Homo sapiens: one gene and its partners. The protein of the gene in region 3 purifies or fractionates together with the protein of the main gene of each other region. This does not show direct contact. Each region holds a gene or a part of one and is shown on either strand. Other genes may lie near its edges.

The links.
Region 1: the proteins of PRKAG3 (region 3) and DGKE purify together in Homo sapiens (affinity purification with mass spectrometry; one large-scale study listed by BioGRID and IntAct). This does not show direct contact.
Region 2: the proteins of PRKAG3 (region 3) and ZNF436 purify together in Homo sapiens (affinity purification with mass spectrometry, with the first as the bait; one large-scale study listed by BioGRID). This does not show direct contact.
Region 4: the proteins of PRKAG3 (region 3) and PTPRT purify together in Homo sapiens (affinity purification with mass spectrometry, with the first as the bait; one large-scale study listed by BioGRID). This does not show direct contact.
Region 5: the proteins of PRKAG3 (region 3) and FAM228B purify together in Homo sapiens (affinity purification with mass spectrometry, with the first as the bait; one large-scale study listed by BioGRID). This does not show direct contact.
Region 6: the proteins of PRKAG3 (region 3) and PRKAA1 purify together in Homo sapiens (affinity purification with mass spectrometry; 4 studies listed by BioGRID and IntAct, with this or other methods). This does not show direct contact.
Region 7: the proteins of PRKAG3 (region 3) and PRKAA2 purify together in Homo sapiens (affinity purification with mass spectrometry; 4 studies listed by BioGRID and IntAct, with this or other methods). This does not show direct contact.

What each region holds. Positions count from the first base shown.
Region 1 is NC_000017.11:56,867,609-56,870,067, forward strand, and holds the end of DGKE (diacylglycerol kinase epsilon), read left to right. Parts: 3' UTR 1-1,959; downstream 1,960-2,459. UniProt on the Homo sapiens protein: Membrane-bound diacylglycerol kinase that converts diacylglycerol/DAG into phosphatidic acid/phosphatidate/PA and regulates the respective levels of these two bioactive lipids.
Region 2 is NC_000001.11:23,363,337-23,366,836, reverse strand, and holds part of ZNF436 (zinc finger protein 436), read left to right. Parts: intron 1-3,500. UniProt on the Homo sapiens protein: May be a transcriptional repressor.
Region 3 is NC_000002.12:218,829,004-218,833,192, reverse strand, and holds the start of PRKAG3 (5'-AMP-activated protein kinase subunit gamma-3), read left to right. Parts: upstream 1-1,389; 5' UTR 1,390-1,422; coding exon 1,423-1,455; intron 1,456-1,817; coding exon 1,818-1,857; intron 1,858-2,291; coding exon 2,292-2,447; intron 2,448-2,811; coding exon 2,812-3,215; intron 3,216-4,189. UniProt on the Homo sapiens protein: AMP/ATP-binding subunit of AMP-activated protein kinase (AMPK), an energy sensor protein kinase that plays a key role in regulating cellular energy metabolism.
Region 4 is NC_000020.11:42,084,407-42,087,906, reverse strand, and holds part of PTPRT (receptor-type tyrosine-protein phosphatase T isoform 2 precursor), read left to right. Parts: intron 1-2,053; coding exon 2,054-2,179; intron 2,180-3,061; coding exon 3,062-3,225; intron 3,226-3,500. UniProt on the Homo sapiens protein: May be involved in both signal transduction and cellular adhesion in the CNS.
Region 5 is NC_000002.12:24,161,469-24,164,968, forward strand, and holds part of FAM228B (protein FAM228B), read left to right. Parts: intron 1-37; coding exon 38-145; intron 146-2,729; coding exon 2,730-2,867; intron 2,868-3,500.
Region 6 is NC_000005.10:40,777,875-40,781,374, forward strand, and holds part of PRKAA1 (5'-AMP-activated protein kinase catalytic subunit alpha-1), read right to left. Parts: exon of another isoform or gene 3,481-3,500; intron 2,465-3,480; exon of another isoform or gene 2,208-2,464; coding exon of another isoform or gene 2,159-2,207; intron 1-2,158. UniProt on the Homo sapiens protein: Catalytic subunit of AMP-activated protein kinase (AMPK), an energy sensor protein kinase that plays a key role in regulating cellular energy metabolism.
Region 7 is NC_000001.11:56,651,814-56,655,313, reverse strand, and holds part of PRKAA2 (5'-AMP-activated protein kinase catalytic subunit alpha-2), read right to left. Parts: intron 1-3,500. UniProt on the Homo sapiens protein: Catalytic subunit of AMP-activated protein kinase (AMPK), an energy sensor protein kinase that plays a key role in regulating cellular energy metabolism.

The DNA of each region.
Region 1 (2,459 bases), on a different chromosome or scaffold from region 3:
AAAAAGGCCGGGCGTGGTGGCTCACGCCTGTAATCCCAGCACTTTGGGAGGCTGAGGCAGGTGGATCACGAGGTCAGGAGATCGAGACTATCCTGGCTAACACGGTGACACCCCGCCTCTACTAAAAATCCAAAAATTTAGCCGGGCATGGTGGCGGGCACCTGTAGTCCCAGCTACTCGGGAGGCTGAGGCAGGAGAATGGCGTGAACCCGGGAGGCAGAGCTTGCAGGGAGGCGGAGCTTGCAGCGAGCCGAGATAGTGCCACTGCAGTGGGGCCTGGGCCAAAGAGTGAGACTCCATCTCAAAAAAAAAAAAAAAGAAAGAAATGTGTTGCTGGTATCAGATATCAGACCAAGAACACTTCAGTCTCTCTAAGGATGCCCTGAGCTACCTCACTGTTAAAGGACGACATCAACACAGAATGCACTAAACAGGAAATAAGCTGTAATCTAGAGAATTTCCATTATGTGTTACTTTTTGGTGACTAACATGGAATGTTGAAAAGGAAGAGCTGGAAAGCTCAGTTGTTTTCCTTGTTCCTCTGACATTGTCCAGGCAAGAGGGCATCCTGATCAGATGAGTAGATTTGGCTGAGAAAAACCCTAGAGTAAGGCAGGCACTTTGTGGAGGTGGATGATGATGGCTCATAAAAACGTTTGTTCTCAGTCCAGTTCAGGGCTCTGCCAGCAGTCTTTCAGATCTGAACTGCTTAAACAAACCCTACAGATAAATTGGCACTCTGATTTGTAATTCTGTTTGTACAAGTTTAGAGCAGCCTAGCTCGAGTCCTCAACCCCAGTCCTCTTAGAAGTGAACTGATTGCACTGGATCCCTAAACCCACAATGTTGAGGACACATGTGATGACTCCACTTGCTCAGCCAGCTGGCCTCTTGCACTTTCCCCTGCCCACCACTTGTAACTACCACTTAATTATCTTGTGTTAATTGCTTTTGTTGTGTTGGGTCTGTATTTTTGTGGTCAGTGCCTGCAGGCAGAAATGTGAAAGCATTTGGTATGTTGAAGATACTTGCTTCTTTTTTAATAAAATTAAAAGTGCAGCACGTAAGTATGATACTGTGTAGTTTTTTGACACAACCATGAGATACAATAAGCAGCTTTGACTTAGTGTCCCAAAAAGTGGTTCTTGGTCTACAGCAGGGCAAACATATATGTGGCAAGTTCTGATCACATACTTTTAGACAGAAAGAATAAAAAATTCATATTGCATGGCTTTTGTAGCCTAAGAGCACAGAATCATACACGTGTGTTAGGAGAAACATTCATTCTCACGCATATAAACTGGCTCCTGGCAGAGTAGAGCAGTAAGTGGGATCAAAGGTGAATTCACCTTATTTTCAGTTGGTAGAGTATGGAAAAATGTATCACTTATTTGAAATACCTGAATGGAAACCCAGCCTCTACTACTGTAACTTAACACTTGTTCTTCCTGAGCCTCAAATTTTCTTTCTCTGTAAGAATGGGAATTAATGCCCACCTACGGGTTGCAAGTGCTTACAGGAGCTGGGCAAGCAACGAAGGTAAGAGTTGTAGAGACTTCGGTAAACTGGAGCACATGATTCCTGGGAAGCAGGCCTAGTGTAAACAATTTATTTTTCTAGAAAAGACAGAAGTTTAGAGTATATGAAATCTAATTTTTAAGTATTGGTTGGCAACTAATTGACTATCGTCTACCATAAGGTTATATGATAATTATTAGGGCAGGAGAGTGAATGCATCTTAATATGCATGGCAGAACTGTGTGTTTCCTTCCATCTGGATTTTCATAAAGCTTTCTGATTTATCAGTAACGATCTGAAAAATGTACTGTGGCATGTAACATCTTTTATTCATTTTATTAGGCATTAGAGGAAGAATATTCTGTAGTCCTGCTTTATTCTGCCATCTTTACCTGGAAATCCATTTTTATAAAATTTTTGTAATAAAAATTCACTTGATCACTTGCCTGCTTTCTTTTAAACAGTGCCAAGCGTAATGCCCCTTGATAATTTACATATATGTGAACGTGGCTGTGATAGCTGCTGATGTTCACACATAGGCCATCTTACATGTAATGATCCATGTTTGGACTTAAACAGCTTCACACATTTATTGTACAGTTAGGTGTCACATGCTTTTACTTTTTATTTTATAATCTGTATTTCTGTGAGGTAGACATTATTGGCTCCATGTTATATACATTGATAGCCCGGAGCTAGAGATTGAACCCAGGCCATCCTCCCCACTGCCTTTCATCATCAACACAACCACCACCAACAGTATTTTAAAAGTGTTAAATATTGGCAGACGTGTCATTGTTCTGAGCACTAGGACTAGGGCTTATGCGGCTGTCTGAGGAATTCCCTGTACAAGGAAACATCATATACCAAAAAGTTACTCATGGAAGGAGTTTGGAGATGATGAGCTAAAAGTATTACACATGGACTATTGTAAAAGAAAA
Region 2 (3,500 bases), on a different chromosome or scaffold from region 3:
AGACGTTCAGATTTCTTGTGCCCTGAGTCATTTTCCAATCTCCAGCCTGTTTGTACAGATCACTGACCAAACAGGTCTGGCATAATAGTGCTTGCCAGAATATAAATGCCCCGTAACTAGTGCTTTTACTCTAGGGTGCTAAAAGATGAGGGGATTCTAACCCAGGTTCATGGGAGGGCGAAAGCCACCTTTTTGTGTTTGTTTTGGCTTCAGAGCCCTAGCTTTGCCTCAAGTTCCTTAGCTGAGTAGATTCTCATCTAGAGATGTTTCAGTGTTGATGATGATAGATTTGTAGTGTGTCAAATGCTGTTCCAGAAGAATGCTGAAATAGATCACAAATTCTATTAGAGAGGGCAGCTGATTTTTTTTTCATGGTCTGCAAGCCTGTCTTCTCTCTTTGCTGTACTTTGGTCTGGGTGTAACTAGAATAAAGAGTATATTCTTGAGCTGAACGGTCTTTTGACTCACTTTGCCTCACTTTGCCTCCTGTCAAGACTTGACAGACATTAGCAAGCGTGTATGGGTCACTAGGTCATTTGCCATTCATTAGGATTAATCCTGTTTTTGAAATCTTTATTCCCATAGCCTTTTTCAGAACAAAAGGCAACTCTGAGGGCTTTCCTTTTTAACTTGAGCTTTCTCTGATGTCCCTAGTTTCTTGAATCCTTTCTTTATAAAAGTAACCATAAATAGTTATCTATCCAGATCTATTGCAGTCTGTAACCCAAATATTCCACTGAATCCAACAAAAGCAAAAAATGACAATCTTTAAAAAATGTGAATTTACAATTCTACAGTTTAGCCCCAAAAGCACTTGTTAGAAGGATGAAAGCGCCAAAAAACTGGTTTCTTGCCCAAATAAGTTTGGGAATGGGAATGGGTTTAAAAATGATTACAAGGCTTTTTTTTTTTTTTTTTTGAGACAGGATCTTGTTCTGTTGCCCAGGCTGGAGTGCAGTGGCACGATCACAACTCATTGCAGCCTTGACTTCCCAGGCCCAGGTCATCCTCCCATCTCAGCTTCCTGAGTAGCTGGGATCACAGATGCGTACCACCTTGCCCGGCTAATTCTTTTTATTTTTTAAAAAATTTTAAATTAATTAATTAATTAATTAATTTTTTTGAAACAGAGTCTCAGTCTGTTGCCCAGACTGGAGTGCAGTGGCCCAATCTTGGCTCACTGCAACCTCTGCCTCCTGAGTTCAAGCAATTCTCCTGCCTCAGCCTCCCGACTAGCTGTGATTACAGGTGCATGCCACCACGCTCAGCTAATTTTTGTATTTTTAGTGGAGACGGGGTTTCACCATGTTGGTCAGGCTGGTCTTGAACTCCTGACCTCAAGTGATCCGCCCACCTCGGCCTCCCAAAGTGCTAGGAATACAGGTGTCAGGCACCATGCTCAGCTTCTTTTTATTTTTTTATTATTTATTTATTTTTTTGTGAGATGGAGTCTTGCTCTGTTGCCCAGGCTGGAGTGCAGTGGCGCGATCTCAGCTCACTGCAAGCTCTGCCTCCCAGGTTCACGCCATTCTCCTGCCTTAGCCTCCTGAGTAGCTGGGACTACAGGTGCCCGCCACCACACTCGGCTAGTTTTTGCGTTTTTTTTTTTTAGAGATGGGGTTTCACCGTGTTAGCCAGGATGGTCTCGATCTCCTGACCTCGTGATCTGCCCACCTCGGCCTCCCAAAGTGCTGGGATTATAGACGTGAGCCACCGCGCCCGGCCTGCCTCTTTTTATTTTTAATAGAAGTGAGACCTCCCTATGTTGCACAGGCTGGTCTCAAACTCCTAGGCTCAAGTGATCCTCCTGCATCAGCCTCCCAAAGTGCTGGGATTAGAGGCCTGAGCTACTGCATCTGGCCTTATAAGGCCTTTTTACCTCAGGATTCCTTAGAACCTTTAATGTGTTATTAGGCATTGTGAATTTTGAAGGAAATGATATTGTATGTACCATTTACCAACCCAGTTTATCCATGAACCCTTTTCTCCCAAAATACATACTTTCTTTCTGAAGAGTGTACTAAGAAACCCAATTTGGAGAATGCAGTGTCTGGTATAAAACTCCTTGTAGACAGTGGTTGTGTATTTTGATTTTCATTTGAAGACTGCATGTGAAATATACTTAGACAATGCCAAGAATGTTCTCAGCCAGACATCTTTTTTGCCTTCTTCAACTTTCCCACTCCTATTTTCATTAAAAGGTCACTGAAAAGTAGGAAGTGACATTTGTCAGTCACTTTTCTGTCAACTATGACATAGGTAAAGATTCATTTTTCTCCATATTAACATAGTTGGTTCTGGCCAGGCACGGTGGCTCACGCCTGTAATCCTAGCAGTTTGGGAGGCTGAGGCGGGCAGATCACCTGAGATCAGGAGTTCAAGACCCGCCTGGCCAACATGGTAAAACCTGTCTCTACTAAAAATACAAGAAAATAGCTGGATGTGGTGGCGGGCACCTGTAATCCCAGCTACTCGGAAAGATGAGGCAGGAGAATCGCTTGAACCCAGGAGGCAGAGGTTACAGTGAGCGGAGATTGCGCCATTGCACTCCGGCCTGGGCAACAAGAGTGAAATTCCATCTCAAAAAACAAAACAAAACAAACAAACAAACAAAAACATAGTGGCTTCTTAGTAAATATTTTATGATGCTACTAATGATGAAGGCTTGGCAAGTTAAAAAATACATACTCACAAAATACCTAGAATCTTGCCTTTTAGATATTCTAATTTAGAGTCTCATATTTTCTGCTTCCAGTGTTCTTTCAAAACACGAATATATATAGTTTTTTTTTTAAGAGACAGGGTCTCGTTCTGTCACCCATATTGGTGTGCGGTGGCACAATCACAGCTTATTGCAGCCTTGAACTCCTGGGCTCAAGTGATCCTCTTACCTCAGCCTCCTGAGTAGCTGGGACTACAGTTGCATGCCACCACATCCACCTAATTTTTTAAATTTTTTTGTAGAGATGGGTTCTCCCTATATTGCCCAGGCTGGTCTTGAACTCCTGGCCTTAAGTGTTCCTCCTGACTTGGCCTCCTAAAGTGTTAGGATTACATGCGTGAGCCACGGCACCTGGCCTGTATAGTTTTCTTAATGAATCATTAATTACAGCGATACAGAATGTGAATTTTGACAGACCTGAGTTTGAATACTGGCTCTACCATTTACTATGGCCTTGAGCAAGTCAATTCACTTGTCTGGGTCTTGGATTTCTCATTAATGAAGTAGAAATAATCACAATTCCTGACTCTCAGAATAGCTGTGATAAAGAATATATGTGACGAAGAATATAAATAATTTAGGCTGGCCACAGTGGCTCAGAAGTTCAATACCAGCCTGACCAATATAGTGAAACCCTGTGTCTACTAAAAATAAAAAAATTAGCCGGGCATGGTGGCGTGCACCTGTAGTCCCAGCTACTCAGGAGGCTGAGACAGGAGAATTGCTTGAACCCAGGAGGCAGAGGTTGCAGTGAGCCAAGATCACACCACTGCACTCC
Region 3 (4,189 bases):
TAAGGCAAGGGAAGGGGTGTCAAACCAGGCTTTGCTGATCAGGCTTATGGTTTCTTTGCCAATACAACACCCTCACAATCTTAGAAGCCTTCTGAGTGGCTCCATGTTTGAGTAACCACAGCCAATGGCCTCATGTAGACCTTATTTTTATGCTTGAACACTCTGGACTTGGTGTTCTTCCTACTCTCCTTTCTCTCAAACTGGTGGTGGCTATCTTGAGTCCATTTGAAAAAACATGCTTGGTGTGAAGGAAATTCTCTTACACTGATCTCTGTCCTCTGAGCCAGTTCCCACTGTCCAGTGAGCAGATGTCCTTGAGAAAGGCTGGGGACCACAGGAACAGCCCTGGCCAAGGCTGTCCTCCCAACTCCATTCTCCTCCACCCTCCCCATTGGCAGAGTAGGAACATTGAGGGTTGATGGAAAACACATGTAATAAACTCAGACAGAAATTCACCAGTCTGTTGTTGAGTGTCCACTCCAGGGCCAGGGCTGGGATGGAAGAGGCTGGAAGGAGGAGAGAAAGGGAGGGGCAGAGAGAGGAAAGCCGGAGCAGCTGGGTCAGCATTCCCAATCCGGACATTGACTCAGGCTCCGGGAATGCCAAGGAAGAGGGTGGCAGCTACTGGAGCCAGGCTGGGATCCTGTTGGCACCAGGGATGTAGGCACAGCACTCACAGAGGGTTGGGGGCTGGGACACCTGCACACCCAGGCATATCTCCCAACCACAGGTGGAAACAGATGTCTCTTCCCCTGCGGGGAGCTCTGAGTGCTCCCCACGCCTTCGAGGTGATTCTCACAGCTCTTCACCTGCCTGAAACACCCACTCCATCTCCTTCACCTGAGAGAGGGACACACTCCAGGGACTCAAATCTGGACATCTGGACATACACTAGCTGCTCTCCTGGACTACCCACAAACCCCTTGCCTCATCTCCAGCCTCTGAGCTGGCTGCAACTTGCCCTTTCTAACTCCAGCACCACCCTCTACTGAAATTAGAACAAGGAAGAAAGTTATGCTGATCTGCCTCCATGTTCCCTTCTTTGGTGCCTGATAAAGATGAGGGAGGCTCTTGGAATAGGGGCTCAGGACTCTGAGAGCCCAACTCTGCTCAATGACCATGTTCCCACATGCTCCAAGCCACATCCCCTCAAAAAGGGTCCCTCTAGCTTGTCCTCAGTGACCCAGGAGGCAGCTGAGGACCAAGTACCCAGATTATCCGGTGCGCCCCTTCCCTCCCAGCAACCCCCAGCCTTCAGGGCTGTAGCAGCTGAGCAAATGGGGGCCCCTCCCTCTCATTGCCTGACACCCAATCAGAGAGAAACCGATCCTGGCAGGGCAGGGTGCCCGGGGCCGGGCCCAGAATAGTGCAGCCCAGCCACAGTGTCGCACACTTGCTCTCAGTTGGTCTGGGGCTGGCCACATGGAGCCCGGGCTGGAGCACGCACTGCGCAGGGTATGGGGGTCCCAGGGGAGCCGGAGCCGGGGCAGCTGAGGCCAGAAGATTGAGCGCACGGGCTGTGAATGTGTGTGTGGGCGTGTGTGTCTTCTGGTGTGTGTTTGGTCTGGATTTTCTCGTGAATATGGGCATGTGCATGTTTGGGCATATGTATTGTGAGTGTGTGTGGTTCTGTGTGCCTGGGAGTGTTTGGATGTGTGTGTTTCTGTGTGTGTTTGTGTATGGCTGCATGTCTGTGTATGGCGTGTGTCTGAGCGTGTGTATTGGTGTGCATGGGTGTGTAGGCGTGTGTTCAGGGAGAAGGGGTTTGGGAATGTAAGGCACTTTCCCCACTCCTTCAGAAACTCTTCTCCCCACAGACCCCTTCCTGGAGCAGCCTTGGGGGTTCTGAGCATCAAGGTAGGGAGAATGCCCCCTCCCTGGGGCCTAACCTCTTCCCCCACCTCCTTGTCCCCCACTTTTCTGGGACCCCAATTCCCTCCCAGCCTGGCTTTTATCTTCCTCCTTTTGGTCTTTCTTCCTCATTGTTCTTCCTCCTTTCCCCAGGTGTGTTTCCCTCACCTCCAATTTCCTCTTTTCAGAAGTGACTTTCCCACTTACTTGCTGTGTGATTTGCAGCAAATTGCTTAACCTCTCTGAATTTCTGGTCCCTCACTAGCAAAATAGGGATGATAATAATGCCTGCTTTATAAGGCTGCTGTAAGTTTTAAATGAGAAATATGTTGGAGAAAAGCCCATTGGAAGCTTGCAAATCCTAAAGATTATGAATAACATTTGAATTGATTTTGATGCATTACTCCCTATTAACCAAACAGGCCCCATTCCCCTTCCAGAGATGAGCTTCCTAGAGCAAGAAAACAGCAGCTCATGGCCATCACCAGCTGTGACCAGCAGCTCAGAAAGAATCCGTGGGAAACGGAGGGCCAAAGCCTTGAGATGGACAAGGCAGAAGTCGGTGGAGGAAGGGGAGCCACCAGGTCAGGGGGAAGGTGAGGCCAAGGCCAGTTCTGGGGAGGTGGGAGCCAGGGGAGTGGGAAATCCCAGAGGAGCCTGGGTCTGGTCTCTACCTCAGGTCCCTCCATAACACAGAGTTGGACCCAACCTTCATCTTGTGGCCTCAGTCTCCCTACATAGTAGAGAACAAGGCACTGCAGTGCCAGAGGCCAGCATGGCCAACTCAGAAAGATGGGACAGAGCCACTACCTGGGGCGACTCTCAGGTCAGCCCCTCACCTGCAAATAGGGCCACAGCATCCAGGCTTCCCACTGCTGCTGTGAGATGAATGGCGACAGCAGATGAGAACGTGCTTTGGAAGATGGAGTTACTGTCCTCTTCCCCTCCTCCCCCAAACAGGTCCCCGGTCCAGGCCAGCTGCTGAGTCCACCGGGCTGGAGGCCACATTCCCCAAGACCACACCCTTGGCTCAAGCTGATCCTGCCGGGGTGGGCACTCCACCAACAGGGTGGGACTGCCTCCCCTCTGACTGTACAGCCTCAGCTGCAGGCTCCAGCACAGATGATGTGGAGCTGGCCACGGAGTTCCCAGCCACAGAGGCCTGGGAGTGTGAGCTAGAAGGCCTGCTGGAAGAGAGGCCTGCCCTGTGCCTGTCCCCGCAGGCCCCATTTCCCAAGCTGGGCTGGGATGACGAACTGCGGAAACCCGGCGCCCAGATCTACATGCGCTTCATGCAGGAGCACACCTGCTACGATGCCATGGCAACTAGCTCCAAGCTAGTCATCTTCGACACCATGCTGGAGGTGAGGCCACGGCTCTGCCCAACCTGTACTCACTCTCCATCCACACGGTGCTGCAGCCGCCACTCCCACCCTGCAGGATGCCCTGCTGAGCCAGGTGCCCCTGCAAGCCCCCTGAAAGGACTCCTTCTTAGCACTATGGAGGCCAGTTGGGGGAGGGACAGCTTCTACTCTCTGTTAGCACACGTAATTGTCATCACAGCTCTGCCACTTAGTAGCTGTAGGACCTTGAGTTACATTACCTTTCTTGTCTCTAAAATGGGGATCGAAATGCCTGCTGCACCCTACATAGTTCAGAGGATTCTTGGACTACCCAGTATAAAGCGTGAACAAAGTATGTGTAAGACATTGCAGAGGCCGGGCACGGTGGCTCATGTCTGTAATCCCAGCACTTTAGGAGGTCGAGGTGGGCAAATCACAAGGTCAGGAGTTCGAGACCGGCCTGACCAACATGGTGAAACCCCATCTCTACTAAAAAAAAAAATACAAAAAATTAGCCGGCCGTGGTGGTGGGCGCCTGTAATCCCAGCTACTTTGGAGGCTGAGGTAGGCGAATCACTTGAACCCAGGAGGCAGAGGTTGCAGTGAGCCGAGATCGTGCCACTGCACTCCAGCCCGGGAGACAGTGCGAAATTCCATGTCAAAAAAAAAAAAAGGCATCACAGAGTGACTTAGAAAAAAGAGTAGGGGACTCTCTTGGTAACAGAAAAAATAATGAGCTCTGGCACCTGCTCTTCCATTAGGCTTAGCTATAAATGTCTATAATCTTATTCTTATCATTGTTATGCAGTGCAGTGTTTCCCAAAACACGGTGTATGTATTGTCCATAGCATGCATTTTGATTCTAATGGTTCGTGAAAAAATATGTCTATTTCAGTAGCTTTATATTTGTTTTAGGCTGTGTTAAAAAAATATAACCAGCATGTGCAGATAGTACTGCTTAGGACGGGGCACAAAATGAGTCAATATAAAATTTA
Region 4 (3,500 bases), on a different chromosome or scaffold from region 3:
TTCTTCTTCTATTTTTTTTTTTTTTTTTTTTTTTGAAATGGAGTCTTGCTCTGTTTCCCAGGTTGGAGTACAGTGGCGTGATCTCCACCCACTACAACCTCTGCCCCCTGGGTTCAAGTGATTCTCCTGCCTCAGCCTCCTGAGTAGCTGGGATTACAGGTGCCCACCACCATACCCGGCTAATTTTTGTATTTTTAGTGGAGACGGGTTTCACCATCTTGGCCAAGCTGGTCTCGAACTCCTGACCTCACGATCCACCCACCTTGGCCTCCCAAAGTGCTGGGATTACAGGCGTAAGCCACCGCACCCAGCCTCCATCTCTTCTTCTCAATGACCCCTGAAGCTTAAAGAATAATTTATGGCCAGGTGCAGTGGCTCACACCTGTAATCCCGGCACTTTGGGAGGCCAAGGTGGGTGGATCACGAGGTCAGGAGATCAAGACCATCCTGGCTAACACGGTGAGGCTCTGTCTCTACTAAAAACACAAAATAAAAATAAAAAAAATAAAATAGCCGGGTGTGATGGCACATGCCTGTAGTCACAACTACTTGGGAGGCTGAGGCAGGAGAACCACTTGAACCCGGGAGGCAGAGGTTGCAGCAAGCCAAGATCGCACCACTGCACTCCCGCCTAGGTAACAGAGTGAGACTCCGTCTCAAAAATAATAATAATAATAATTATAATGATTTTATACTAGGTTTTCTCAGTCTCTGCACTATGGATATTTGGGGCCACATAACTCTCGGGGGGAGCTAATCTGTGCACTGCAGGATGTTGAGTAGCATCCTCTCCTCTACTCACTAAATGCCCATAGCAACCCGCAGGTGTGACAATCAAAATGTCTTCAGACATTGCCCAGATGCCCTCTGGGAAACAAAACAGTCTCAGACTGAGAACCACTGTCTTAAACAGAAGGTCAATCACTGCCTTTTGCTCTCAGCTGTAGGTTCTAATTTCCAATTCCAGATAAATAGAAAGAATCATAGGCAAGATCTGTCAGCACCATGTGACATTAACTTTTGGTGCAAAGTAAGCATAATTATCCCCACTTTACCTATGAGAAAACTGAGGCCTGGGCTGCACAGCTAGTGAGCACCTGAGACCAGATTTGGACCCAAGGCCGCCTGAGGTCAAACCCATATATATATATATTTTTTTTTTTTTTTTTTTTTTTTTTTTGAGATGGAGTCTCGCTGTGTCACCCAGGCTGGAGTGCAGTGGCGCGATCTCAGCTCACTGCAAGCTCCGCCTCCCGAAACCCCTATATTTTTTACACTACTTCTGATCTGATCATGAATGAACACTATGAAGGTTTTCCTGGAATGAGGAAGAGCTTGTGATGATTTGCGTGGTGAAAAGAAAAATAGATGGTACTTGCCCTTTCTTTAGCATGTTCTATCTAATCCTGACAGCGGGGCTTAGAGGTAGATATTATTCTCCCCATTTTACAGATGAGGAAACTCAGGTTAAGCAAACCTAACAAATGGTTTGAAATCAACATAGCAAAGATTTGCAAGCCCAGTGTTTCTGTGCTCAAAGCCTTGATATTTCAACACCAGAAAAAGTGGATGGCTGCTCCCTAAAGGGGAAACTGAGTCTAATTTCCTACATAATACTCTACCTTTCTGGCCAATGTGTCCTTCCAGCCATAAAAAAAGCTTGGTGACGGCTGGGCACAGTGGCTCACACCTATAATCCTAGCACTCTGGGAGGCTGGGACAGGTGGATCACCCGAGGTCAGGAGTTCAAGACTAGCCTGGCCAACACGGCGAAACCCCATCTTTACTAAAAATAGCCAGACATGGTGGCAGGTGCCTATAATCCCAGCTACTTGGGAGGCTGAGGCAGGAGAATCACTTGAACCTGGGAGGCAGAGGTTGCAGTGAGCCAAAATCGTGCCAATGCACTCCAGGCTGGGCAACAAGAGTGATGCTCCATCTCAAAAAAAAAAAAGAAAAAGAAAAAAAGAAAAGAAAAGCTTGTTGATAAATGAGACTTTGATACCCGCCCCCTGCCTTTGAGCTCCTTCTGTGACCTCTTTCCTTATCTCAGTTCTGTATGCAGTACTGGCCTGAGAAGACCTCCGGGTGCTATGGGCCCATCCAGGTGGAGTTCGTCTCCGCAGACATCGACGAGGACATCATCCACAGAATATTCCGCATCTGTAACATGGCCCGGGTAAGTACACGGCCGCCATTGCTTGCTGAGCCCCTCCTCCCCAAGACAGATGGAGGCTGCCGAGAGAGGATCCCGCTGAGCCAGCCAAGAGTCTGTGTTGTGCTCTCCTGATAATTTCTTCCTTGAGGAAGTGATGCCTGTGCTGATTCCGGCTCCAGACTCAGCAATGACTCCAACACATAGAGATGCAACGAGCGACATCCAACCTGCCATCTGCCTGTTTCCTGACACACTTGCTGCCGTGTAGACAAAACTTCTTAGACATTAGCTCTTCCCCACTGTGTCTCTGTACTGGCATGAGTTGATGCAGCCTTTGATTGGATCCCATAAGCTTTGGGCCAGGCACTGCCAACACCTAGATGAAAAGTGATTACTTACTTCCATGAGGATGTTCACTGGCTGAGCAGAGTAGTGGGTGGGAGGGGCAGATTAGCAATCTATGAAATGGTTGCTAACTAATGCAGCTTTGGTCACTACTTGGGGCCCAGGATGAAAGGAGCTCAGCACCTCCCCTACCCCCCTGCTCAGAGTTCACTGTCCACTGAGACAGTGAGACATGTTCTGGCACATGAGCCTCAGGGAGAAAAAACTCTGCCCAACAGAGTCAGGGAAGGCTTTCCTAAAGAAAGGGACATTTAAATTGGGTTTTGAAGGCTGAGCAGGAGTTTTTCAGGTACAAAAGGGGGTTCAGGGCAGTCACGGCAAGAGAATCTGTGTACACGAAGGAATAGAAGTAGTCATGGGGACTCTCCCCGTGAGGACATGGCTTAGATCCCATTTGGTCTGTCTTCCACCATGATGCTGCAGTCCCCGGGGTATCTGCAAGGTGCATGTACGCAAGCATCCCCAGCAGAACAGCCCTAACAGCCTCTCTGTTCTCAGCCACAGGATGGTTATCGTATAGTCCAGCACCTCCAGTACATTGGCTGGCCTGCCTACCGGGACACGCCCCCCTCCAAGCGCTCTCTGCTCAAAGTGGTCCGACGACTGGAGAAGTGGCAGGAGCAGTATGACGGGAGGGAGGGACGTACTGTGGTCCACTGCCTGTGAGTACTAGGGAGGTGTCACCAGGGCAATAGGGTGGTGGGTGATAGAGCATCCTTGCAGATGCTGCTGGCCACATACCCCAGTCCTAGGCAGGCCTGGCTATACCACAACTCAACATCCCTCAAAGGCTAGTGGCAGTACATTCAAAGGAATTATGATCCTTTAATGGAACGGGGCTGCCAGTTTGTTGTCCTGAACTAATATATGACATATTATTGATGCAAAACCTAGTGGTCTTTCCACAAACATGAGAGGAGGTTGCCTGCTTCTCTAC
Region 5 (3,500 bases), about 190 Mb from region 3:
ACAAAAAAACCTTCTCACACTTGTTATCTTGTTAAAGGTTAAAGGTGAAAGTGAATTTTAATGACTGTAGTTTTGATTTGAAACCTTTGGCAAGAGCTCCTTATCTTTTGGAATCCCAGGAAGAAGAAAAAACAGTTATTTACAAGTAAGTCTGTTCTTCCATAGCTTTGCTCTTCTTTTGCTAAGATGCTAGGCTGTGCTGCCATCCCCTGCCATCCTTTCATGTTGCTGAGACGGTGCTGAGGCACACACAAAGCTCCATTGTGGCAGGACACCGGGCATCTCCTACCACTGTGTCTGGTGAGGTGGCAACACTTCCCAGGCTTTTCTGGTCTTAAAGAACAAGTAGGCTGGGTGCGGTGGCTCCCGCCTGTAATCCCAGCACTTTGGGAGGCCGAGGCGGGCAGATCACCTGAGGTCAGGAGTTTGAGACCAGCCTGGTCAACATGGTGAAACCCTGTCTCTACTAAAAATATAAAAATTAGCCAGGCGTGGTGGTGGGCAACTATAATCCCAGCTATCTGGAAGGCTGAGGCAGGAGAATTGTTTGAACCCGGGAGGCAGAAGTTGTAGTGAGCCAAGATTGTGCCACTGCACTCCAGCTTGGGCGACAGAGCAAGACTCTGTCTCAAAAACAAACAAACAAAAAAACCAAACAGCAACAACAAAACAAGTAGCTAATACAGAAATAACAAACACAGAAATGGAAAAAAAATTGTTAACAACTTGTACTAAAGCTAAAAGGTTAGGAGATTTAAAATTGAATTGGAGTAGTATAAATGGAGTTTGGGACTGGTTTGGGTGGGTAGTAGCTGTTACAATGTTGTACCTAGAGTGAAAGATGTTGTTGTAAACAGAGAATGGTACATACTATCAAATACTATGTATATAATGTGGGGAATCATCTCAGCTAACTAGTTTTAGAATTAAGAGATTTCTCTACATAATTATGTATCTTGTGACTATCTGGTTAAAAGTCGTGCTGCCCCTCAGATATTGCTGGAGGGAATGTAAAATGGTGCAGCAACTTTGGAAGGCAGCTTGGCAGTTTCTCAAGATGTTAAACATTAAATTATTATGTGACCCAGAAATTCCGCTCCTAGGTTTCTACTCAGGAGTAATGAAAACATATCCACATAAAGGCTAGGATATGGATGTTCATAGCAGCATTATTCACAACAGCCAAAAAAGTGGAAACAACCCAAATGTCTATCAGCTGATGAATGGATAAACAAGATGTGGTATATCCATACAATGGAATATTACTTGGCAATTAAAAGGAAAAAAATACTGATACATGCTGCAACATAGACAAACTTCAAAACCATTGTACTCAGTGAAGGAAGCCAATAACAAAAAGCTACATATAGTATGTTTTTTTATACAAAATGTTCAGAAAAGGCAAATCTGTAAAGACAGAAGGTAGATAGTAGTTGCTTAGGGCTGGGGATGGGAGTGGAGAGTGACTTAATGAGCATGGAGCCTTGGGGTTAATGAAAATGTTCTAAAATAAGATTGTCGTGGTGGTTGCACAACTCTGTAAATATACTAAAAACCATTGACTTGTACACTTAAAATGGGTGAATTTTATGTCATATAAATTACACCTTATTAAAATTGTTCATAATAATAATAAAAAAGGAACCTAGCAAGGTGCAAGAAAAGTGAGCTTTTATGACTTTCTAGGAGATCGGCTTACAATTCTCTGTTCCTAAAAAGTGCCCGAAGTAAGCTGCAGTAGTTTCCTTTTCCTGAACAGGTTCAGAATTTGTTGAATAAATACAGTGTGGCAGAAGCTGGAGGGCTTTTAGAGATGCTGGTATGACCAGCAGAGAGAACAACTAATTGTCTCCTGAGGACCTTAGTGATGTACCGTAGAAACAGATGACAGCTGGGGAGGGCGTTGGCCAACATGGGCTCATTGTCCTTGAGGTGTGGTTTAACCATTTGCTGGGTTGTTTCTTGAATAGGAGCCACAAGTGAGGGGAAAAAGGAAGTGTCCAAACTAAGCCCTATTCCCTTGGTAGCTGAAGGCCTTAAAAGACAAAATGATTGATTGAAAAGAGAATTGAGACTCACTCTTGCATATTAGGGTCCAAAGGAGTAAGTTCTTCTGCAATCCCTAATTACCAGAGTCTCAAATAGACCTGTTTGGGTAAGATTTTACAATAATCAGCATCTTAATTCTATTTAATTTTGATAAATGATATAAAAGGAGAGATTTTGTTCTCAAATACATCTTCTAGCAAAGCGAGACCCACGTGTGAAGGAGGATATTGCATTTCTGGAGTAGTGGGTTCCTGTATTTTAGACTAGAGGCTTAAGTCTAGGCTCACTCTAGAAGAAAGAGGAAGACTGGATTCTCTTCCATGAATAAGGGAAGCATCCCAATTCTGGCAGCAGGGGTGGAGAAGGCATATTTGTCCTTGGCAGAGTTAGACCTTCTCAGGGAGGGCAAACTGGACAACTCTATGAGGGATCATTCACTCCAAAGGACCCAAAGCTGTTTGATTAAGCAGCACAGAGATTACAGCTGAAACTATGACTAGAGCAAGGCAATACTATTTATTTGGGTTTATTTTCACACAAAAAAAGTAAATACGTTTATTTTCATAAAAATACACAAATTCACATAGAACTCATCAACTTCAAATTTAAATAAAAATATTAAGTGCTACAGTTGAGTTGAGAGTTAAGAGAATCCCTTCCTTTCTGGTTCCTTCCTGCAGAAACAAAGGGTCATCCTTTCTAGAAAGAGAACCGCTGTGCTATCAGGAGGGAAATAATCCAAGTGCCAAAGAGGCCATCTCTGAAGGGTATTTTTCTTCCTTGAGCCTCAGCCAGGAACGGGAGGAAGACCAGGATGGGTAAGAGCTGGGGCTGTCCCATTTCATCATACATAAGGTGGCAATCGCTGATACCAAAATCTGAGCACCTGGGAACTTTCTTTGTATGGCAGGCTTCCAGGAAGAGAGGAGGCAGTGGGGAATAGGTTAGAAGCAGCTGAGGGGCAGGTGCCCTTTATTCAGAGGGAATGGAGAGGGCTGCCCTGGCCCCCTGGTGGAGTCACACGATGAGGGTGCCCCCTGGTGGAGCCACACGATGAGGGTGCCCCCTGGTGGAGCCACACGATGAGGGTGCCCCCTGGTGGGTGGGCCACGCTGTCCAGGATTTCCCCAGCCCCTCTCTCAGTCCGCCATCTCCACCCTGTCTCTACCATTTACCACTTAGCATAGCCAAGCCAGGCCCCACATTTTGTTAACCTTAAGGCAGTCAAGATAGGTAGAAAATTTTCAAAAGGACCAATACTAAATTCAAGTAGTAAAATTTAGGAAGTGAAAGCCCCCATATTGAGAGATTGCCAGCAGCAGAGAGGAGCACCCACGCTTCCTCACTCGGCACCTTGTGACTCCTGGATTGCATTAGGGCTGAGTGAGGGCTTGTTCTCTGTGGACCCTGGAGTAGGCCCTGTGACTGGTGGAAAGGATCCCGGGAAAAAA
Region 6 (3,500 bases), on a different chromosome or scaffold from region 3:
CCAGCCCGGCTAACATGGTGAAACCCCGTTTCTACTAAAAATACAAAAAATTGGCGAGGCGTGCTGGTACACAGCTGTAATCCCAGCTACTCGGGAGGCTGAGGCAGGAGAATCGCTTGAACCCAGGAGGCGGAGGTTGCAGTGAGCCGAGATCACACCACTGCACTCCAGCTTGGGCAACAAGAGCAAAACTCTGTCTCAAACAAACAAACAAATACAAAAATTAGCTGGGTGCAGTGGTGGCACATGCCTGTAATCCCAGCTACTTGGGAGGTGAAGCAGGAGAATCACTTGAACCTGGGAGGCAGAGGTTGCAGTGAGCCCAGATTGCACCACTGCACTCCAGTCTGGGGTGATGATTGAGACTCTGCCTCAACAAAATAAAAATAATAATATATTTAGACATATTATAAGAGTAGTCATCTAGCATCCTCAGAAAATAGCTAAGCAAATATAAGTTATTTTCTCTTTTGCCAGATTCATCCCAAATGTTCAGATGTTTAAGAGTGATTACATAGGAGAATACATAAGAAATTGGTAACAGTGGTTTCTTCCAGAAGAGAAAGCTAGAAGACTAAAGGAAGAGGGGAAGGAGACTTTTTTGCTGTATACCTTTTCGTATTTTTAAATTCTTTTAATTTTTCACCTTTTAACCTATCATACACACAGACTAAAATTTTTCTTTTAGTATCATTTATATGGATATTAAAACATATAGAAATTGGTGTAACCAGCATTATATAGTCAGATACAGAACAGTTCCATCATCCCAAAAGACTCTCTCATGTCATAGATACATTTCCCCATCCATAACCTCTTATACCTTTGAAATTCTGGTTCATGTGCATGTGGTTTCTAGTTTTTTTGGTTTCTCTGTGTTTTAAATTTTTTTTCCTGTTTTTTAATTTTTTTTTTTTTTTTTTTTTTTTTGAGACAGGGTGTCACTCTATCACCCAGGGTGGAGTGCCGTGTCACAATCAGAGCTCACTGCAGCGTTAACCTCCCCAGGCTCAGGTGATCAGGTGATCCTCCCATCTCAGCCTCCCAAGTAGCTGGGACTACAGGCAGGCCCCACCACACCCAGATAATTTTTTTGTATTTTTCTGTAGAAATGATGTTTTACCATATTGACCAGGATGGTCTCAAACTCCTCAGTTCAAGCAATCCACCAGCCTCAACTTCCCAAAGTGCTAGGATTATAGGTGTGAGCCACCATGCCCAGCCTCTATTTTTTTAAATGCAGTTAAAAATAAAGGGAAAAAAAAAATCAAGTCATTTTATCTTTCCATTTTAAATGTTATCACTAGACAGTCGGTGGTGACAGAATTTGGGTTTAGGACATAATCCCAAAAGACACAATCCCAAATGCCATAATCCCAAATGTTGAAATCCCAAAAGATCAAAATCCCTAAAATCTAAAATTCCAAAAATCACAATCCCAAAAGAACAAAATCCAAAAAATTGAATTCTGGAAAAATAATTTGTAAAAAGTTCTCTAAAAGACACTTATTTCCATTTTTAAAAGATTTATTTGAGAAACATAAAAACACAACGGAACAGTTCATAGGCCCCTTTACACAATAAAATAGGCACTAATAACATATTTTTGCAAGCATAAATACTCAGGTATACTAACAACCATTGCATGGGTATAATAGGAACAGAGAAAATGTATTCATGAAGAAATAGATTAAAAAGCAAAATGGATAAACACGTATCACTATGGTTGGTAATCAGGTGCACCCAGATTCATAACTGCGGTCATCTGAAATACCAGACAACCTGAATCTTCTGACAAGATCGATCAAAAACTGCAATGGGTCACTACCGTTTGCACAAAAACTGCAATAGAGTCACCCAAAGAGCCAAGATCTTGAGAAATTTTATCTTTCACAAATACAGATGAACAAAACGGACATCTCTTCATTTACTGAGCAAGTTTCAACATTTTTATGTACATGCACAATGCTTACACATTACGTCACATTGTGATAATGCACTTTCATGGAGTCAAATATGCAAAAAAAAAGTGCATAAAATGAATTAGAATTCTCTAAAAGCCTTTACAGAATTTATACCTGCAGTATTAGAAATGATGCAAAGATAAAATACATAGCATAGCAAATTGGCACTATGTGTGAAAGGGCAGAAGTCATACCTGATTGAATAATTTGGCAGGGGAGCTTTCTTATATTTTTCACCTGCATATTCACTTCTATGATCTTCAAAACATTCACTTGTGTTTAGACTAGAGCGGTTGTGGTCTAAATATTTTGTAAGTATATGCTGACCATTTAGAAATCTGGTTATTGCTTGGCCATTGCAATTAAGTGATTTTCTGTCTTCACAACACCAATAATAATTAGCTTTTAAACTTTTCTCTTTCAGCATTAAGTAGCCTGGTATACTTAATTTATCACAGCCTTTTTGCAAGGGAACAATTTCACAGGTCTCTTCCACTGTGCTGTAAGGAATACAGTAAGAAGGAATGATATTTGGCTTTCTCAATACCAAATCCGTATTAGTCAGCATTCTCGACAGACATAATTCTCGACAGACAGCATTCTTGAGAGACATAACCAATAAGATATATATATACATAGATATATGAGAGACGATTTATTAGGGGAATTGGCTCATGCGATTATAGTGGCTGATAAGTTCCAGGACAGGTCATTTTCAAGCTGGAGACCCTGGCATGCTGGTAGCTTGGCTCAGTCCAAAGACCTCAGAACCAAGCCAAACCAGGTCTCAGTCTGAGGCTGAAAGCCCAGGACCCAGGGGGCTGCTGGTGTATGTCCTAGAGTCCAAATGCCAACAAGCCTGGAGTTCTGATGTTCAATTCAGCAGAAGAAAAGTCCGTTCCAGCTCTCAGAAAGGCAACAATTTGTTTTCTCTGGGCCCCCAGCAGATTTAATGGTGGCCACCGCTATTGAGGGCAGATCTTCCCCACCTAGTCCACTCAGACTCACATACTAATCTCCTCACAGACAAACCCAAAATAATGCTTTAACAAGTTTCTAGGTATTTCTTAATCCAGTCAAGTTGACACCTAAAATTAAATCCATGAATCCACCCCTCGTCAATTTGGCACCCATAAACCATCTCCTTAAACCATACTTAATTTCCAAATAAATACAATAAAAAGGCAATCGGTTCCACCTAATATGATGCAAGTAAAATGATGCAACTATCTTTCATACAACCGAATGTGCACTAATTTCTACCCCAGGTGTTGGCTTTCAGCATTTCAACATTTGGGATTTTAATCTTTCATGATTCTGATTTTCAGGATTTCAGATGTGTGAGATTTTTAGAATTTAGGGATTCTGATTTTTAGAGATTTTGATCTTTCAGTATTTCAACATTTGGGATTATGGCATTAGGGATTTGGTCTTTTGGGGATATGATCACCAGTAGAATTTAGACAGTCATGAGGCTAAGTCTCCAAAAATTTAACCTTTGTGCACCCTTTCTCAGGAACCTACTGGAGAATATAT
Region 7 (3,500 bases), on a different chromosome or scaffold from region 3:
TGAGACCCTGTCTCTACAAAAAAAAAAAAAAAATATATATATATAGATATATAAATACATACATTGTGAGAAACAGTAAAATGATTTTTTTAAAAAGAAAATGAAAATAACTTATACTTATCATATTGCCCAAGTAAAACAAGCATTTAGAAAAAAAAAAGTATGGTATATTTAAAAATGTTAGATCTATTGTTTTATGACAGTCAGTTTAACTTACCTTATAATTCATTTATAATTTAGAAACTGAGATGTTGAATAAGAACACACTGTTCTTGTTTTAATAGTATATATAATCTGAAGAAAAATGATTCTGAAAAAACAAAGTATATTAATAACATACTAACATTCAGAGTAAGAGACATATAGCAAGATTTTATAAATTATCTTTAATCATATAAAAGGCTGTTTAAAAAGATCTAATGGCAGATTAAAAAGAGAATTATGAATATTTTAAAAACAAAGGTACCACCCAAAGAAATACATAAAATTTATCAGAGGCAAACACTGCCAAACATAAGACACCACTTAAGCAAGAATACTGTTCCCTTGAAGGGGTGAAGAAGGCTTCTATTATTAGCAGAGATAACTGCCTGAAATTCTTTCCTTAATAACACCATACTAAAAATAAAAAGGTTCATCATATTTCAAAATAAACACATTGCTTTTCATACGCATTTCAATCACTTCAATAACAGATAAAAATAAAAGCCTGATTTAAGGTTTACATTTCTCTTATATTTGTAGTTGATAAATACACTAGGTAGATTTGCTCTCATTTTTATAACATATTTAATGCTTTAAGGGTCTTGTGCCAGCCACTTACTCATTATTTCTTAAAGGATTTGAGATTAGATCTTCCTGCTAGGTCAAATTAAATTATCTGCTTGGCTTCAAAAATTATTAATACTTCCTCTACAAAATATTTTCTCTATCATTTAGGAAACCACAGGAATCTCAGAAGAATAAATGGGGTGGTATTATTATTACAAAGCAGTACCAAATGCTTTCAAGAAAGCTAACATGGACCACAAGGTAAGTGGACATTTTGGGATGTTTTTACAAAAAGAAGCAAGATAAAGCATGGTTGTGTCAGCATGAAAAAGGGAGAAAGCTCATGGAACTGAGGTAATTACCTCAATATATGACCAAACTACAAAATCCTTTCTAATTTATATGGATATGTTAAGATAAAGTTTGGTAGAAAAGCATTTTTAGCTCAGAGTGTATTATCTGAACTGAAAATATATGTATAGCCTCATTTTGGTTCTACTACAAGTGGACCAGGACTTTAAAATGACCCATTCATACTAAATGCCATCTGCTGCCCACACTTTCCCCCTTCCCAGCTTATGCCTCTTTCCTCCAAGAGTTTCTATGATGGATACCATGGGATCTGGAATACATACATACATATATATGTATGTATACAAAATATATATAATGTGTTTGTGCCTTCCAAGTGATGCACAGAAGATGGTGAAAAGTGAGCAGCTTCTAGAGAATTACAGGTTTCTGAACACATTCATTTGCAGAAATAAGACCAGAGTAAAACAAGACAGGAGGTAGTGAATTCTTCCCTCTCTCTCATCAATAAATTTCTGGTCTCAGAACCAGATCACAGATTATTCTCATAGTTCAGCTAATTGTGGGTTTAAGTACATAATGGTGTCTACATACACAAAAGTACATAAGTACTTCTGAGTGCTTTTTCATCTATGTACATTTTCTCATGTACTTCTCACAACACTAGAAGAGAACATATGGTATTATTCCCATTTTTACAGATTGAGTTTGACCACATAGCTGGTTTATGACAAAACAAAGGTTCCACACCAGGTCTTCTAAGTTCAACATACTACAGAGAGTATTTATACTACATCAGGCTGCCTTTGTGGACATACTATGAAAATAGCTACCATTTATAACATTGTTTCCTATTTAAAATACCCTTTGAAAGTCAATCAACTGGCTACACCAAATGAACAAAATCCATTCAGATATTAAGGACACAATTCAAAAATCATATAAATTATATATATATTATATATATCTATATATATCAGCAAGAGAAACCTAAATAGCACGTATTTACCTAATTGTGAGAATAATTCAACTGATTTTAATTCAATCACTAATCTAGTATTTGAGAAGAAACATAATTTCATTATTTGGAACCAATATTTAACACTTGTTTAGAATTTGCATAATTTCAAAAGTAAAATCAATTTACTGTGAATGTGTGTACATTCACTTTTATTTAACTATTACTTCCATTTCATTCTTGTTTCATTCATCTTCCATATTTGGGAAAAAGCAAATTACATGACTTAGTCATACAGGATATTGTTTTTAATATAAACATTAATAAGTATCATAAAGCACAGATAAAGTAGTCATTAAGAGCTTTCTTCAACCTAGGCAACCACAAAATAGGGGCAGATTACTACAGCTCTATCTCAATGTTGGTGTGAGAACTGAAGGCATTTCAATGGAAAGTAAGTACTTTCTAACACAGGGTGCAGAATTTACCTACAATTGCCATGCATCTCACCATCTCCACAAGTGTCATCTATCTGTATAGCATTTTATCTTTTCCAAAGCCATTTTATATACCTCAACTCATTTGATCTTCATAACTATTCCAGAAGGTAGGCAGGACAAGTATGATCATTGCCATATTACGAAGGAGGAAACAAAGGCTCAGCATCTAATGGTTTTTCCCAAAGGTGAGACAACTGGTAGTAGAAATGGAATTAATTCCAGAGCTAATACCTTCTTATACCAATGTTTTCTTCTAGAACATCAAATCATTTGTACAAGTTCTCTTTAGTCTGGTTACTAAAGGTTACTGGCAATCACTAGTCAAGATTACCTTTATAGCCTGTAATCCCAGCACTTTGGGAGGCCGAGGCAGGTGGATCACAAGGTCAAGAGAGCAAGACCATCCTGGCTAACACGGTGAAACCCTGTCTCTACCAAAAATACAGAAAATTAGCCGGGTGAGGCCGGGCGCAATAGCTCACGCCTTTACTCCCAGCACTTTGGGAAGCTGAGGCGGGCGTATTACGAGGTCAGGAGATCGAGACCATCCTGGCCAACATGGTGAAACCCCATCTCTACTACAATACAAAAAATTAGCAGGGCGTGGTGGTGCACGCCTGTAGTCCCAGCTAGTCGGGAGGCCGAGGCAGTGGAATCGCTTGAACCCAGGAGGCAGAGGTTGTAGTGAGCCGAGATCGCGCCACTGCACTCCAGACTGGTGACAGAGCAAGATTCTGTCTCCAAAAAAAAAAAAAAAAAAAAAATTAGCCAGGCGTGGTGGCAGGCGCCTGTAGTCTCAGCTACTGGGGAGGCTGAGGCAAGAGAATGGCGTGAACCCAGGAGGCGGAGCTTGCAGTGAGCTGAGATAGCACCACTGCACTCCAGCCTGGGCGACAGAGCCAGACTAGTCTCAAAAAAAAAAAAAAGATTACTTTCATATCAGTAAACACACTGAAATC